2 separate regions of the Homo sapiens genome follow, and region 2 is reported to be linked to region 1. The links are microRNA targets in miRTarBase. Many come from high-throughput screens and were not tested one by one. Region 1 holds a microRNA gene; the other region holds the end of a gene's coding sequence.
The links. Region 1 holds the annotated microRNA hsa-miR-3666 (CAGUGCAAGUGUAGAUGCCGA, at 3,263-3,283, shown strand). A microRNA usually pairs through its seed, bases 2 to 8, with sites in the 3' UTR of a target mRNA and lowers its output. Matches are read on the target gene's strand: a 7mer-m8 pairs with bases 2 to 8, a 7mer-A1 pairs with bases 2 to 7 and ends in A, and an 8mer does both.

Region 2: the mRNA of MAP7 is a reported target of hsa-miR-3666. Seed matches in the 3' UTR shown: 7mer-m8 at 1,570-1,576.

Annotation. Positions count from the first base shown.
Region 1 is chr7:114,650,111-114,657,232 of GRCh38, forward strand. It overlaps MIR3666 (microRNA 3666), which reads left to right and starts at 3,235; the gene lies at 3,235-3,345. FOXP2 (forkhead box P2) reads left to right here. Exons shown (of 17, transcript NM_014491.4): 9 at 2,093-2,180; 10 at 3,816-3,899. RefSeq lists an enhancer at 4,944-6,208.
Region 2 is chr6:136,337,583-136,344,704 of GRCh38, reverse strand. MAP7 (microtubule associated protein 7) reads left to right here. Exons shown (of 18, transcript NM_003980.6): 18 at 467-1,971. The coding sequence ends at 477. Among named protein-coding and RNA genes, the nearest start is that of BCLAF1, 51 kb to the right of the region's middle.

The DNA of each region.
Region 1 (7,122 bases):
AAGCTGCATAGATAAATTGAATAGGGCTCTAAGACCCAAGTATATAAAGCAAACATTTTGTACTTTTTTTAGTTCTTTAAATATAAGATCATGATTATCACTAAGCAGTAAACAAGTGTAGAAAATCATTTTAAAAAGTGATTTCACAAGAAAATGTTATAGTGACTATGCCTTTTATTGCAGACCTGTATGTTCTACTTATCTTGCTTCCTGCATTTACACCCTAATCTCAGTGTATAACTGAAGCATTTTTGAAAATATGCAACATTTTTTCTTATATGGAATAAATATGTTTGTGTTCCCCAAGAGTTCATGGTGAAAAAAAAAAAAATCTTACGGAAACACAGCAATATGAAGCCTTAAGAATACAACACACAACTGTATTATGCTGGTAGAAAATTGTCTTACTGTTCATTTAAATTTTGGGGGAAAAAACCCTGGGAAACAATTTTTAAATGTAGTCTTGTTATTTAGGAATTGGTGACACTTTCTGTTAACTAACCTCTGGCTTACTCTCACATTCCATACCTCCTTCCCAGAGAGCATGAGTGAATGTTAATCCTCCTCACAGGTTCACAGCAGAACAAACCTGAGCTGAGCTTAGAGAGCAGACAGGTATAGTGGAAGTGCCTCCCCTGCACTCCAGCCACACTCCTTCAGCTTGACCTTATCCACCTTGCTATTTTAGTCCACAGTTTCTCTTCAACCAAGACTGACATTGTGACAAGATACATGGAGGTTTTGTTGTTATGATCAATAAGGAAGTATTAAAACAAACTGGTTTAATTTATCAAGGTATAGGCAAAACAAAGGTTTCTGATTGTTGAACCTAGGTATATAAACAAATAAACCTTTTGTTTATAATAAAATTAGTTTTTATCAGCAACACGACTTTAATTACTCTTCATATGTTTTACATGTATGTGTCTTATATTTTTTCTGCCTCACTGTGATCTTCAAGAAATAAAAGTAAATAATTTGAATGGATACAAAAATATATTTGTTGAATTCAGTATACCCAGGGCTATTATAAACTTTTTAGACTATTATATCATTCTAAATGATACTTGAGCCCACTTGGGTAAATATATAAATTCTTATTTAATTTTGTGAATTTCTTTTCAATATGCCATTTCACTTATATGCAATGATGAGAACATCTCTGAAATTGTTGCCTTACTTTGCCCATTGGTGAAATAGATACACTAAAGGATATTGAATTACTTGAAGATTACTTTCTTTAATTTTGGGAAGCATCAAAGACATTATGTATTACAAATTACAGAGTATATATTATTAAATGTTTTCATGTTCATTGGAGATGCTGCTTTACTAAATTACTTTTGGTGTATTAACATACCACTCATTAAAGAGATCTCTTTAAACATCGTATAGAAATAATAATGGTAGACTAATGCATATTCAAGGTTAGAGTGAGATCATTTGGAATGATTTATTTTTCACCATTTTAAAAATAAGATTAGGACAAATGTCTCCTAGTTAGAACACTGGACATGAAATGTCAATCTTGTTATTCTAATGATCAAAATCTTCAATGAAGTTCTTTATTACTAACAGCAAATCATCATTCTTCATAAATATTGATTTTCCACGGGAGATAATTTGCCATCTTTACCTAATTCATACCACATCCCAATGAAATAAAACATTGCTCACTAAAATACATCATAGAAACAACAAACTGTTCTAACAATGAAATAGAAAATTGCCTTTGTTCTCTTCAGAATTGCTTTTGGTTCATAGATTTGTAAGCTGTTCTTTTTAAAAAAATGGCATAAATAATATGACTTCTACTATAACTCTGTAAATGGTCTGGGGAAATATTTTTTGTAATAACAGGTAAGCTTAGAGACAGTGACATTTTCTGCCATTTGAAGAGTCTCTTTACATTACATAAATAATTTTCACACAACACGTAAGCAGCTTTAACTTTTATCTGTATGGTTTCAAGGCTTTCTGTTTTCCCAGTGCACAGAAACATCTGACTTCAGTGTAGTGCTTTTTAAGTGTAGCCTATGCCACTAAGATCGACATCACTTTACATTCTGTTTTGTGTCTTCTGTTTGTTTAGGCACCTTAACAATGAACACGCATTGGATGACCGAAGCACTGCTCAGTGTCGAGTGCAAATGCAGGTGGTGCAACAGTTAGAAATACAGGTTTGTTAAATGCTCACTTAATGGACTCTTCTTAGATTTCTGGTGTGTTACATTGAGTACTGAGCAGATTCTGGGTCTTTCAGCCTGCATTTTACTGTCTTAGCCATTCAATACTAATGGAGATACATGATATTTTAGATTGTTTTAAACAGTGGCAATTATTGATAACCCAGGAAGGATTGCTGTAGTTTAATGTACTTATCACTTATATTTTTATAACTTTTAGACCACATCATATGAATTTGAATATCCCAAAGTAGTCAGATCTAAGTTTTTCCCAATGCAGGTTAGACCAAACTCCCAATTAGATATGATTTTATTACAGAGAGAGTTTTTACATGAGCTAACCTTGATTTTTTTCCATGAGATTTTATATTGTGGCAAATGACCAGTCTTTACAATATCATGCCTGTAATATAACTAACACCCTGAAAGATAACCTTTTCTTTTCTTTTTCTAGTGTAATTTTAATTAAAGAACTTGCAAAAAAATCTTTATACTTTTCTTTAGCTAGATTAAAGGCAGATAATTTATATCACAGATGATAATACACACATGTTGTATCAAATGCGACTGTTTTAAGTTAAAAAAAATTCTATTAATGTTGAAACAGAATTTGGCCAGAAGTAAATAGAATCCATAGAACTAATCAGAAAGCAATTATGTCACCCAAAGTCTGACTCTTGTTATGTTTTACTAAGCCTTTAAGGCTTTCTCTAACATTTCATCTTAAAGATGATCTTTTCTCAATGAAACTAATACTTTGTTTCATTTAAAGATACGATTTTTCTTCATATTTTATTACATCTTGTTTCAAATTCGTGTCATTGCTTTTTTCAGAGAGCTTACTAAAAATATTTTGTTTTGACTTGTAAAATAATCAAGAACACAAAAAGCACCATCACTGTTAAAGTTTAAAAAGCTTTTTATAAACCTGTTTACCATTTATAAAAGGTAGACTAAAACATAAGAGTTCAGCTGATGATACAGTCTTCGGTGTGACCAATTACGCCTATTTTTTTTTTTTCCTTCTGCTGTGTCTGACTGATGGAAAAGTAAGGTCCGTCAGTTGTAATGAGACCCAGTGCAAGTGTAGATGCCGACTCCGTGGCAGAGTTCAGCGTTTCACACTGCCTGGTCTCTGTCACTCTATTGAATTAGATTGATGATGGCAGATTGCAGGGGGCACTAACTGGACCTCAGTGGGAATGCATGAAGTGTGTAGACAATCCTGGCAGGCACTTTGCTTTGAGAACCCTTCACCCCTTCACAGCTGTTGGCACTAGTCCATTGCTAACAGTGTCCACAGGACTTTAAAGAGACACCATGGGCCTTCTAATTTATGGTTTCAGTAACTTGTTACTGTCGAGGCAACTGTGACCTCAATTCTCTTATTGACAAAAAGATGAAGTGTTATTTGTTTTCTCTGACCTTTTAACATAAGAAAAGCTATAAAAGTTTTTCCCCCTCCATAGCTAAAGTTGCATTTCCTCCCAGATAAGTTCCTCCTGACGCAGACTTTTACATGCAGGAATCATTATTCTGAGGCAAGCTCAATGATAAGATGTATCACTGCAATAAAATAGCTGTATCAGTCATTTCTAAAACGCTTCTGATCTCACTCTTTCTTAACAGCTTTCTAAAGAACGCGAACGTCTTCAAGCAATGATGACCCACTTGCACATGCGACCCTCAGAGCCCAAACCATCTCCCAAACCTGTAAGTGCATATTGCTTTATAAACAGTAAATAGCTCTACCAATGTAACAGACTAAGAAAATGAACAATTTAGTGACAGTTAGAAAACAATGAGTGTGATGAAAAATACGGCAATAAAATGAAAGTAAAATGTAATCGCTTGTCAAATTGTATGTTTCTTTTAAAGTAATGCTATCTTTTACAAAATCTATCCAATCTACACCATGGGTGACACTAAACAAAGTACACCTATCAGTGCACAAATCACTGCCTTGGGGCTGAAGCCAGAGAGAATTTCTTTCTGTGATAGGTTTACAGATATTAAAAGGAAACCCTCTTTGAGCAACCTGAAAAGTAGTAACGTACAAATCACAAATAGAAATGTATGTGGTGTGCTGAAGAAGGCAGATCAATCATAAGATACATATAAATAGATTTTTATCAAATATTTTGTCATAAAGGTCATGGTATTTTTATAGCCAATTTTGTCCTATTTCTTTGGTTATTTCAGTTAAGATGTATTTCACATATTGATATGTTTTATTGTACATTATACATAATGTTAATTTAGAGAGCTTATCACAAAAAGAAGTGGGTGATTATAGAAAATTAAGACTAGTTTCCCTCAAAAATATATGAGATTTAAGCTCAACCTAATAATGTAGTCAGATACACAGACTGTTGAAAAGAATATACTTTATCTCATTCAGCTGATGTTTGCACAGAAACTTAGAGTAATCAACTGGGTAACTCTAGTTTAATGAAAGTTTGTGGGATACTTTTTAATAAGGCCCCTGTATAGCCTGATGATTAATGATTGCCAGTCTTGCCTCTCCCTCTATTTCTTTAGGTAAAAAACGAACATTTGGCTTTGTAGTTGGGGAGGAGACAGAAGACGACTATATTGTCTAATTTTCTCGTAATGTCTCGATATTTCTTATCAATTAATATCATTCAAAATTTACTTTTTTGGTAGAGATTATATTTAAACTCTGCTAAGCTATTTCTGCTTTTCCTTTGTACTGTATTTAAAGGTAGAGTACTGTAAAAACATTTTTATAGGAAGAAAAAAGACATGTATCTTTTTGAATCTGACATACTACTTTTTAAACTCTAAAATGTCTGAGTTTTTAATTAAAAAATAAACTTTTGAGGATATTTTTGATCATGTATTTATGACTATCTTTTCAATAAGATTTTTTCCCTCATTGCTTCTATAGTATAATGTAGATAATCACAAGACAGAATAATTGTCTCATAAATCCATCAGGAATCTGCAGCTTGTTCTTTTCCAATTAATTATTCAATCAGTAAATTTTTTAAAACTCCAGCAGCATGGTTACATCTACACTAATAAAGAATTTTCAGCCTATAATCCAAAACAGAACCTGAATGAATAATGTAATTGAAGTATTACATTACATAAACCACACATGAAAGAATTGCTAATTGCGTTTGATGGTGGGCAATTAATACAGAATCTTAGATGAGCGATTTAAAATGAAACCACAGTTTAAAGTTCCCTTTGGAACTAGCGATATCTGAAGTGAGGAACTGCACTATTGGCCTCAGATCGGTTTGAAAGAAGAGTGGTCAATACTCACAACCCTCAAAAAAACCCTAAAATTTATACACTGTACAAAAGAAGCTTCAAAATTGATATGATAGTAGAGATTTATGGTCTCATGTGCAGTGGCTCAGTTGAGACGGCCCACACATTTGATAAATATTAATAGCATGAATTTATTACCAAGGAGAAATGAGCTCTGTTGGTTCATCACTGCACCCTTAACAGCTATCAGTACATGAACACAAGGTGCAACCGCACTGTCTATTATATGACCCCATTTACTCTCTGAATGGTACTTCATTAAATGGTACCTTTTGGCCATGCTATGGATGGATGAAAATCAAAGTTATCAAGGCTGCGAGTCCTGAATAATGAGTTTCACCCAACCTTGACTATATTCAGATGAGTCGAGGTGGCTAAGTGCTCATCCTAGCTTTTACATGCTTCCCTTTAGTTAATAATAAATTCTATTTTATCAGTTTGTGATTGTACGCCTACAAACATGGTATGCTTATTATTACAGGATAGCAGAATAAGTTACCGTAACATTGTAAACATGAGTGGTTTGCATTGAAAAAGATGTATTTCTCCTGTTTTGATAACTTTTAATGTGTTGGTAAAATGTACAGAGTCCTGTCACATATTCATCAGGATAGATATTTCATTGATTTGCAATTTGGTATTTTCTGGGTTCTGAATGTGCCATTTTGTTCTGGTTTGCAATTCTAAAAGTGAATATGTAACCATCCAGCTGAGTTTTTTTTTTTTATGTATGGGGAAATACTTTTCTTTTCTTTTCATATTTTTAACATACAAGTATGTAATGCTGATATTTTCTAAATATAACATTGTTATGTATATGTTCTGATGTTGATATTTTAGAATATTTGCAAAGTCACATACAGATGCATATGGATGTTTCTGCGTTTCTCAAACTATGCAGAGGTGCTCTTGTACATCCCAGAGAAGCTTACACCAGTGGCTTTGTAAATGTATTAAATGCAGCATTTAGGAGCATTATCTCAGCTTTCATTTATGTACGTAACAAAGAATTCCCTACCCAGTCTGCTGGCTTAGAGTATGAACAGAATAACAGTTTGTGGTTTATTGGGAACAGATGCACTTGGGGATGCCTTCAGGGTGCCAGTCGTTATTATTAGACTGCTAATGTGCTTCTTCTGGCTGCTGCCCAAGAAAGAAGAACAATTAGCTGGCATATGTTAATTTTTGTTTCCCTAACAAATCTCTCTACTGACTAAATGTGTAAAACAAATCCACAAAGAAAGATCAATCAATGCTGTACACATCATTTTCTCCCCATTAAAAAAAGGTTTATCTTAAGAAGTGTATTTGGGATTTAAAAAGACAGGTGTTACTAAATTATAAACAAAAGCTGAATATTCTCTATTTAGCCACTCAGCAGTTACTTTATAGAGAAACAGAACAATTAGAATTAGTTTTCTTGCTTGGTTGTATAGCCTACTGTATAAAGTAAAAAGGACCACAGATTACCTCTTGTGAATACCATTTAAATGTATGGCAGAAATCTTTTTATGTGCTGCCCTGCGTAAAAATTTTGCTAATTGGATGCTATTTATGACAAAAGATGTGTGGTAAATATGACAGAGGTGATATGAGTTTTTTGATAATGAAGAACAGGGCCTTTCTGAGGGGA
Region 2 (7,122 bases), not on the chromosome of region 1:
AAGCCTTTGGGAACAATCCGACTAATGGTATGTTGATGGAAACATGCCCAGTGCAGCTTCCTACTCATGTTACAGATTTACAGGAAGGGAAAGAACTTCCAGATGATTTATCAACATTTATTTAACCTCCAACATATGTTTAGAACCCTAAGCATCAGATACTGAGGATACAAGAGAAATGAATGTTTAAACCCCTAACCGAGAAAAGTACAATCTGTGTATGCCACTTGGAAAAATGAAGGCTGTGGCCTAAGCTGATGTAAAGAAAAGAACATATGTTTCCTATGAGTAACAGAATTCACTTAAATATAAGACTGTGAATCCTAACAGAATTGCCTATTCTTATATAAGTGTATATAACAGTATAGTAAGTTTTAGAAATTTAAGGTATTACTATGGTATTCTTGAAATAAGATTTTAGATAAATGTCATATTAATCTTGTTCTTTTTCTGTCTCTTCATGTAGAAGTTATATGAGTGTTTCTTCTGAAGAACCAAAGCTGAAATTTAATGAGAATTTCTACAATTAATGGAATTCCTTTCCTGCTATAAAGGAGCATCCCCTCCACCCGTTTTCTAGAGTTCTTGACCATCATTTTGAAAAGATTTATTAAAACTAGCTAAAGACAACAGACTGGATAGCTTTTCTAATAATTTTCATCAATAGGAAAAAAGAAATACGTCTCATTCTTCAATACTTTAAAATGGCTTTTTCCAGTGTGCTCCTTCTTAGCAATCAATATTTTTCTGCATTCTTTAAAAGACAAGAGAATTTGGTTATAAAAGAAATGGGCTGACTAGGCATGATTTTTTTGGTCTTAAAAGCTTAACATGTAAAATTGGCAAAAAAAATTTTTTACCTTTTATAATACTTGAAAAATAAGTACCTCTTTGTTCTACAAGTAGAATGAATAGGAGAAGAGTTTAAGCCTGTTTTTTTAAAATATTATTGCAAAGAGCTCTATTTGTAGAAGCAAATTATAGGCAGATTACCAGGTTCTTATAAATACAGCTTGTACATGGACATTCTGCAAACCCAGCTGTCACATTTTTCTTGCAACTCCTTTTGCAAAAGCAGACTAAAATGTTTTAAAATGTGAAAAAACATTATTTTTTCAAAGCAAGAAAATAATTTACTGCCCTCTTACATAATGTATTTATAAAGTTTTTCCAGATAAACTAATCAAATAAATTAGAATAATGTGACAACATTACAAATTTAATTTGTTAGCTGCATTCCTTCTGATGTTACCACGATAGAATGTTACTGATGATTCAGGGCTATTTCTGAAGTCTGTATGTTGCTGCTGTCCCCAGTGATGGTGGACTTATCTTTGCCTTACCTGATCACAAATTATGTTGGGGAAAATAAAGATTTAATATTTCTTTAAATAGAAAAAGAATTTGGTTTTGCTCGTTTAAGAGCAATGAGAAAATGATGGAATGTTGACTGTGTTTGGCACACAGGACACGGACCTTCATGGAAGTCCTTGCTCTGCGTGGCATCTGTCAGCTTTTCACCTTTCATTCTTATTCTTCACTTTTGCTGCTGAGCCTAGCTGTACAAACTTGCACTTTCATTTGCTAATATAAATTCAGTTTTATTTTACCATTTTAGAGACTACTAATGATTAAATGTAGAAGGAGAGGGTGCACATGTTTTTATGTGGAGTGTTTAAAAGATAAATTTATACCACTGTAATGTGCAGCTTTTATTAAAAGAGAAATTGGTTGAACTGCTAGGTTGAATGAGAGACTTCATCTATTGGACTATTTTTTTTAATCCAGGCATATGGTCTTTAGTAATGGCTTGTAATTTGTGAAAACATTAATTTGGGGGTTTTCCCTGTTTTCAGTTGTCCATGTACACATAGTCATTATATTAGAAAAGAAATCTGTTCAACAAACTTGTTTAATTTGTTTAAATCAACATAGCATGAAACACCAAATAAAATGTTTGACATAGTTTTACTTTTAGCTTTCTCATATGTTATAACTTCACTCAGATTGATTCTTGAGTCTTCAGATTGTCCTTCATTTAACTCAGTGACATTTTCCTAGCCTCCTGTTGATTAAGCATATAGGATAGCCTTATTTAAAATTTAGAGCAGTAGGTGTATTTTGGCTGTTTTTCTTTTTCATGTGTGTTTTTAAACTTTAGTCATCATTAGCAAACGGAAAGCCTTCTAAGTAATCAAGTTTTAATTAGAAGTGGTGCAAAATTCTTAATTATATTGTGTTAAAGAGCAGCGCTGCCAGAGAATGACCCTGACCTTTACAATGGCTGGCTTGCTTTTTGGCCAGCACTGGAAAAATCTATATTTACTTGCAGACCTTAAGGAGGTCTTCAGTATTCACCCTACATTAAGGGGAGCGCTCAGGAATCAAATATGGCCCTCAGTATGAAATGAGAGTGAATGGGCTTTTAGTTTCCTTCCTACACCATTGCAAACTATCTAGGCCAATTTAGTCACCAATCACAGGTCCATTTGGTGGTACCTCTAGCTATTACAGGAAAGTAAGGCTATATGTGTCCTCCTACATAACCGCACCACCTCGTGGTGTGTTACTATAAAAGCAAATCTAAAACAGTTATCTATATGACAAGTTTATTAGCAAGCAGGGCTTCTGGAAAGCTTGGAGAAGTTCTTTCTCTGCTCCTAAGTAACCCCACAAACACCTTGACTAAAAAGTTCACAGTGAAGCAGAAGCAGTGATATTCTGAAAGCAGAATTAAGAAACCTAATTGCTTGGTTGGATCAGGCCACAGTCATAAACGTGTGTGGAGTGCTGGAGGGGGAAGGTACAGGGGCAAGGAGATCTCTAGACCTGAGATACTATAAAAAGTCATTATTTTGCAGGATCTGCCAGATTCTTACACCTCATTTCATGCATTTTGCCTCTAAAAGTCTAGACAACCACCTACTTTTCAGGCTGCATTCATCAGTGAAAAATTACTAATATCCCTTATGCTGATGAACACTCTGGCGTATATTTAGATAAGTGTTTAAAGCATCTTCCTAGCCACCTGATTGAGGTGCTTCAAATACTAACTTACCCCCAGAACAAGATTGAAGTTAAATTACACAGCACACATCCATTACACAGTTTATATTTGAAGTATTTTAAAGTAAATTATTGCATAATAAGTAACAGTCAGCAATAAATTCTCCCATCTTTTGCATTACTTTTTTTAAAATCTGATTGAAATGGACTATTGGCCTCTATCTATTCTGTGCATTGAACACTTAAAGGCATGATGGGGCTGGGTTCCGTGGCTTACACTGTAATCCGAGCACTTTGAGAGGCCAAGGCAGGAGGATCACTCAAGGCCAGCAGTTCAAGACCAGCTTGGGCAGCATCGCAAGACCCTCCCCCGTGCCCATCTCTACTGTCAAAAGAAAAAAAAAAGCGTGATGGAATAGCTATTGGATCAGGTTACAAAAAACAATTTTTAAAAATAAGCTAACATCTAAGAAACATCATTTTGCCTATACTGCCTCCCCCAAAATCCTGTTTTTACTCAGTGAACACCTAAGCCCACTCAGAAATGTTCTGGATTGTCATTTTCTCACATCCTTTAGCACCTCCTTAGTTTTGGGGAGGAGCTCTGAAGGCCTTGCAAGAAGTGGGAGAGAAAAGGACCAGCGTGTGAACAGAAGGGACGATTTTAAGTTTATTACAAATAAAACATTTTGCGACTAGTTCGTTGGTGAATCTCAATTGGGTTTTTATATTAGTAGGTTTGATTACAATTTTAGAGATCAAAAGTAATTTTAGAAACTAAAAATTGGGAGGCCGAGGTGGGCGGATCACCTGAGGTTGGGAGTTCGAGACCAGCCTGACCAACAAGGAGAAACCCTATCTCTACTAAAAAAAAAATTAGCCAAGCGTGGTGGCACATGCCTGTAATCCCAGCTACTTGGGAGGCTGAGGCAGGAGAATCGCTTTAACCTGGGAGGCGGAGGTTGCAGTGAGCCGAGATCACGCCATTGCACTCCAGCCTGGGCAACAGAGCGAAATTCCCTCTCAAAAAAAATAAAAATAAAAAATACAAAAATTAGCTGGGTGTGGTGGTGCACGCCTGTAATCCCAGCTACTCTGGAGGCTGAGGCACGAGAATCTCTTGAACCCAGGATGTGGAGGTTGCAGTGAGCCAAGATTGTGCCACTGCACTCCAGCCCGGGCGACAGAGTGAGACTCTGTCTCGAAAAAAACTAATGCCAAGATAAGTTCTAAAGAAGTTTTAAAATTGCTGTTTAAAAATATACACAGGCCAGCCGCCATGGCTTATGCCCCTAATCCCAAAACTTTAGGAGTCCAAAGTGGGAGGATCGCTTGAGCCCAGTAGTTTGAGACCAGCCTGGGTAACATACAGAGACCCTGTCTCTACAAAAATTAGAAAATTAGCCGGGCATGATGGCGCACGTCTGTGGTCTCAATCACTTGAGAAGCTGAGGTGGAAGGATCACTTAAACCCAGAAGGTCGAGGCTACGGTGAGCTGTGATCGTGCCACTGCATTCCAGCCTGAGTGACAGAGCCAGACCCTATCTAAACAAACAACAACAACAAAAAACCCTAAAAATTAAAGTATACACTAAAAAAGGACTGACAATCACTTTTGAATTACTGGATCTCTAAATACCTTGTGGAAGAGTAAAGGGAGAGGGTCAGAAGGCAAGGTGCTAATGTTAGAAGCAATAGAAAAATGAAGAGCCAGCATCTGGAGTTACACTTAGGTGGTTAAGTATCAGGTTTGCCAGTAATTAACCATAGGAAGCTTGGTAAGTTAATTGTGTTCTCTGTATCTGGATATTTTCATTGCTAAGTGGGAGAATAACACTTATCTCATGGAGTTGTCTTTATTATTATTATTATTATTTTTTGAGATGGGGTCTTGCTGTGTTGCCAGGCTGGAGTGCAGTGGCACGATCTCAGCTCACTGCAACCTCTGCCTCCCAGGTTCAAGCGATTCCCCTGCCTCAGCCTCCCAAGTAGCTGGGACTACAGGCGCACACCACCATGCCCAGCTAATTTTTTGTATTTTAGTAAGATGGGGTTTCACCATGTCAGCCAGGCTGGTCTCGAACTCCTGACCTCGTGATCCGCCCACCTCGGCCTCCCAAAGTGTTGGGATTACAGGCGTGAGCCACCACGCCCGGCCCTCATGCCGGCGTGTCTTAATTATTAAGGTTGAATTAAATGAGTATAAAGTTTCTCAGTAATTTTTCAATAAATGTTAAAACTTTTGTGTTTAAGGCCGGGCATGGTGGCTCACGCCTGTAATCCCAGCACTTTGGGAGGCCGAGGCAGGTGGATCACCTGAGGCCAGGGGTTCGAGACCAGCCTGGTCAACATGGTAAAAACCCCATCTCTACTAAAAATACAAAAATTAGTTGGGCGTGGTGGTGCACGTCTGTAGTCCCAGCTACTCGGGAGGCTGAGGCACGAGAATCGCTTGAACCTGGGACAGAGGTTGCAGTGAGCCAAGATCGTGCCACTGCACTCCAGCCTGGGTGACAAGAGTGAAACTCCATCTCAAAAAAAAAAAACTTTTGCGTTTAGTTTGAGATACTTGTGGAAGACAGGGTCTCTGAAAGTCCAAAGAGTGGCAGGTATCTGCCCCTGTAAGTGGGATCTTCACTCTAATAGTGGCCTTAAATGTCATTAGTCTTTCTTTTTTTTTTTAAGATGCCCATTCTAGGTAGTAGTATACCAAGCAAGCTAAATGGATATGAACTGTTTTCTTCAGGGCAGTATTGCAAGTTTAGAATTTGTAATCATTGAGTTGCTACCATATTACCATTTCACAATCACTTCCCTTTCCATCTCTCCCAAAATGTTTTCTTTCCAAAAAGAATTTTATTTTTATTTTCACATATTTGGAGGCTTTTTTGACATCCTTTGACACAATTAGAGTTACCTTGTTGGCTGCAAATATAGGGATGGTTAACTGCTTTTCCAGAAGTTAGTTGACACTGGCCAGCCTCCAGGAGGTGCTACAGGAAGCTGGGGCAGTGAGAAGTTTCTAAAGCAGTTTCCAAGAGGACTGTGAAGCACATCTCGTTCCAGCTGTGTGTAATGATTCCTTCTCCTCCATAAGTGGAGCCGCCTTACCAGAAGGTGTTATCAAAAAAGAGATGGGGTCAGGCAGGGTGGCTCACACCCGTAATCCCAACACTCTAGGAGACCAAGGCGGGTGGATCACTTTAAGGTCAGGAGTTCCAGACCAGCCTGACCAACATGGTGAAACCGCATCTCTACTAAAAATACAAAAATTAGCGAGGTGTGGTGGCAAACATTTGTAATCCCAGCTACTCGGGAGGCCTAGGCAGGAGAATCGTTTGAACCTGAGAAGTGGAGGTTGCAGTGAGCCGAGATTGCACCACTGCACTCCAGCCTGGGTGACCAAGCAAGGCTCTATCTCAACAACAACAACAACAACAAATGGATCAGGAAGGCGAGGATTTGGAGGCCCTTGTTGGATGTGAGGGTCAGGAAAGGCATCCTTCAGTGCTTCTCTTGCTAGTTCCAGAGTCATCCTTCCCCGTCAGAATGATTGGCAAGAATTTGTCTCACTCTGAGCTGCACCTGCCCTATACTGTCATTCATGTCATCAACTGACATGACCTCTGGCTGGTGGAGTATCAGTGTCCCAGGCTTTTGGGTTTGGGGAGGGTTGGAAAGTAAGTGGGAACCCAACATCAATGACTGACATGATTTTGCCATGGTAGGAACAGTGGAAATAAAAGGCCACTCTTGGTAACTTGTTCCCCGAGACTGTACATCCCACATTGACATATCTGAGGGCTCTTGTCAAAAGCCAGCCCTGCCCCAGTATGTGGCAGCCAGAAGTGCCAGGAAGTTAAGACCTGGGAAGCAGCTTTCAATCAGTGACACACAGAGTCTGTAAATATGGTCCCCGCTCCTGCCTGGGGTGTGCCAACTCTTACATGTATACTTACACTTTGCCTAGAGCTTCTTCACCAGATCAAGCATCTGTCCGTCACAGTGGTAGCTGGCTTTGTAACCCTTAATTTTTTGGCTACATTTTCTTACTGGGGTTCCCTTTGCCTCCCAGATAAACTACTTGTACTCACATCATCATCATAAGGTCAGCT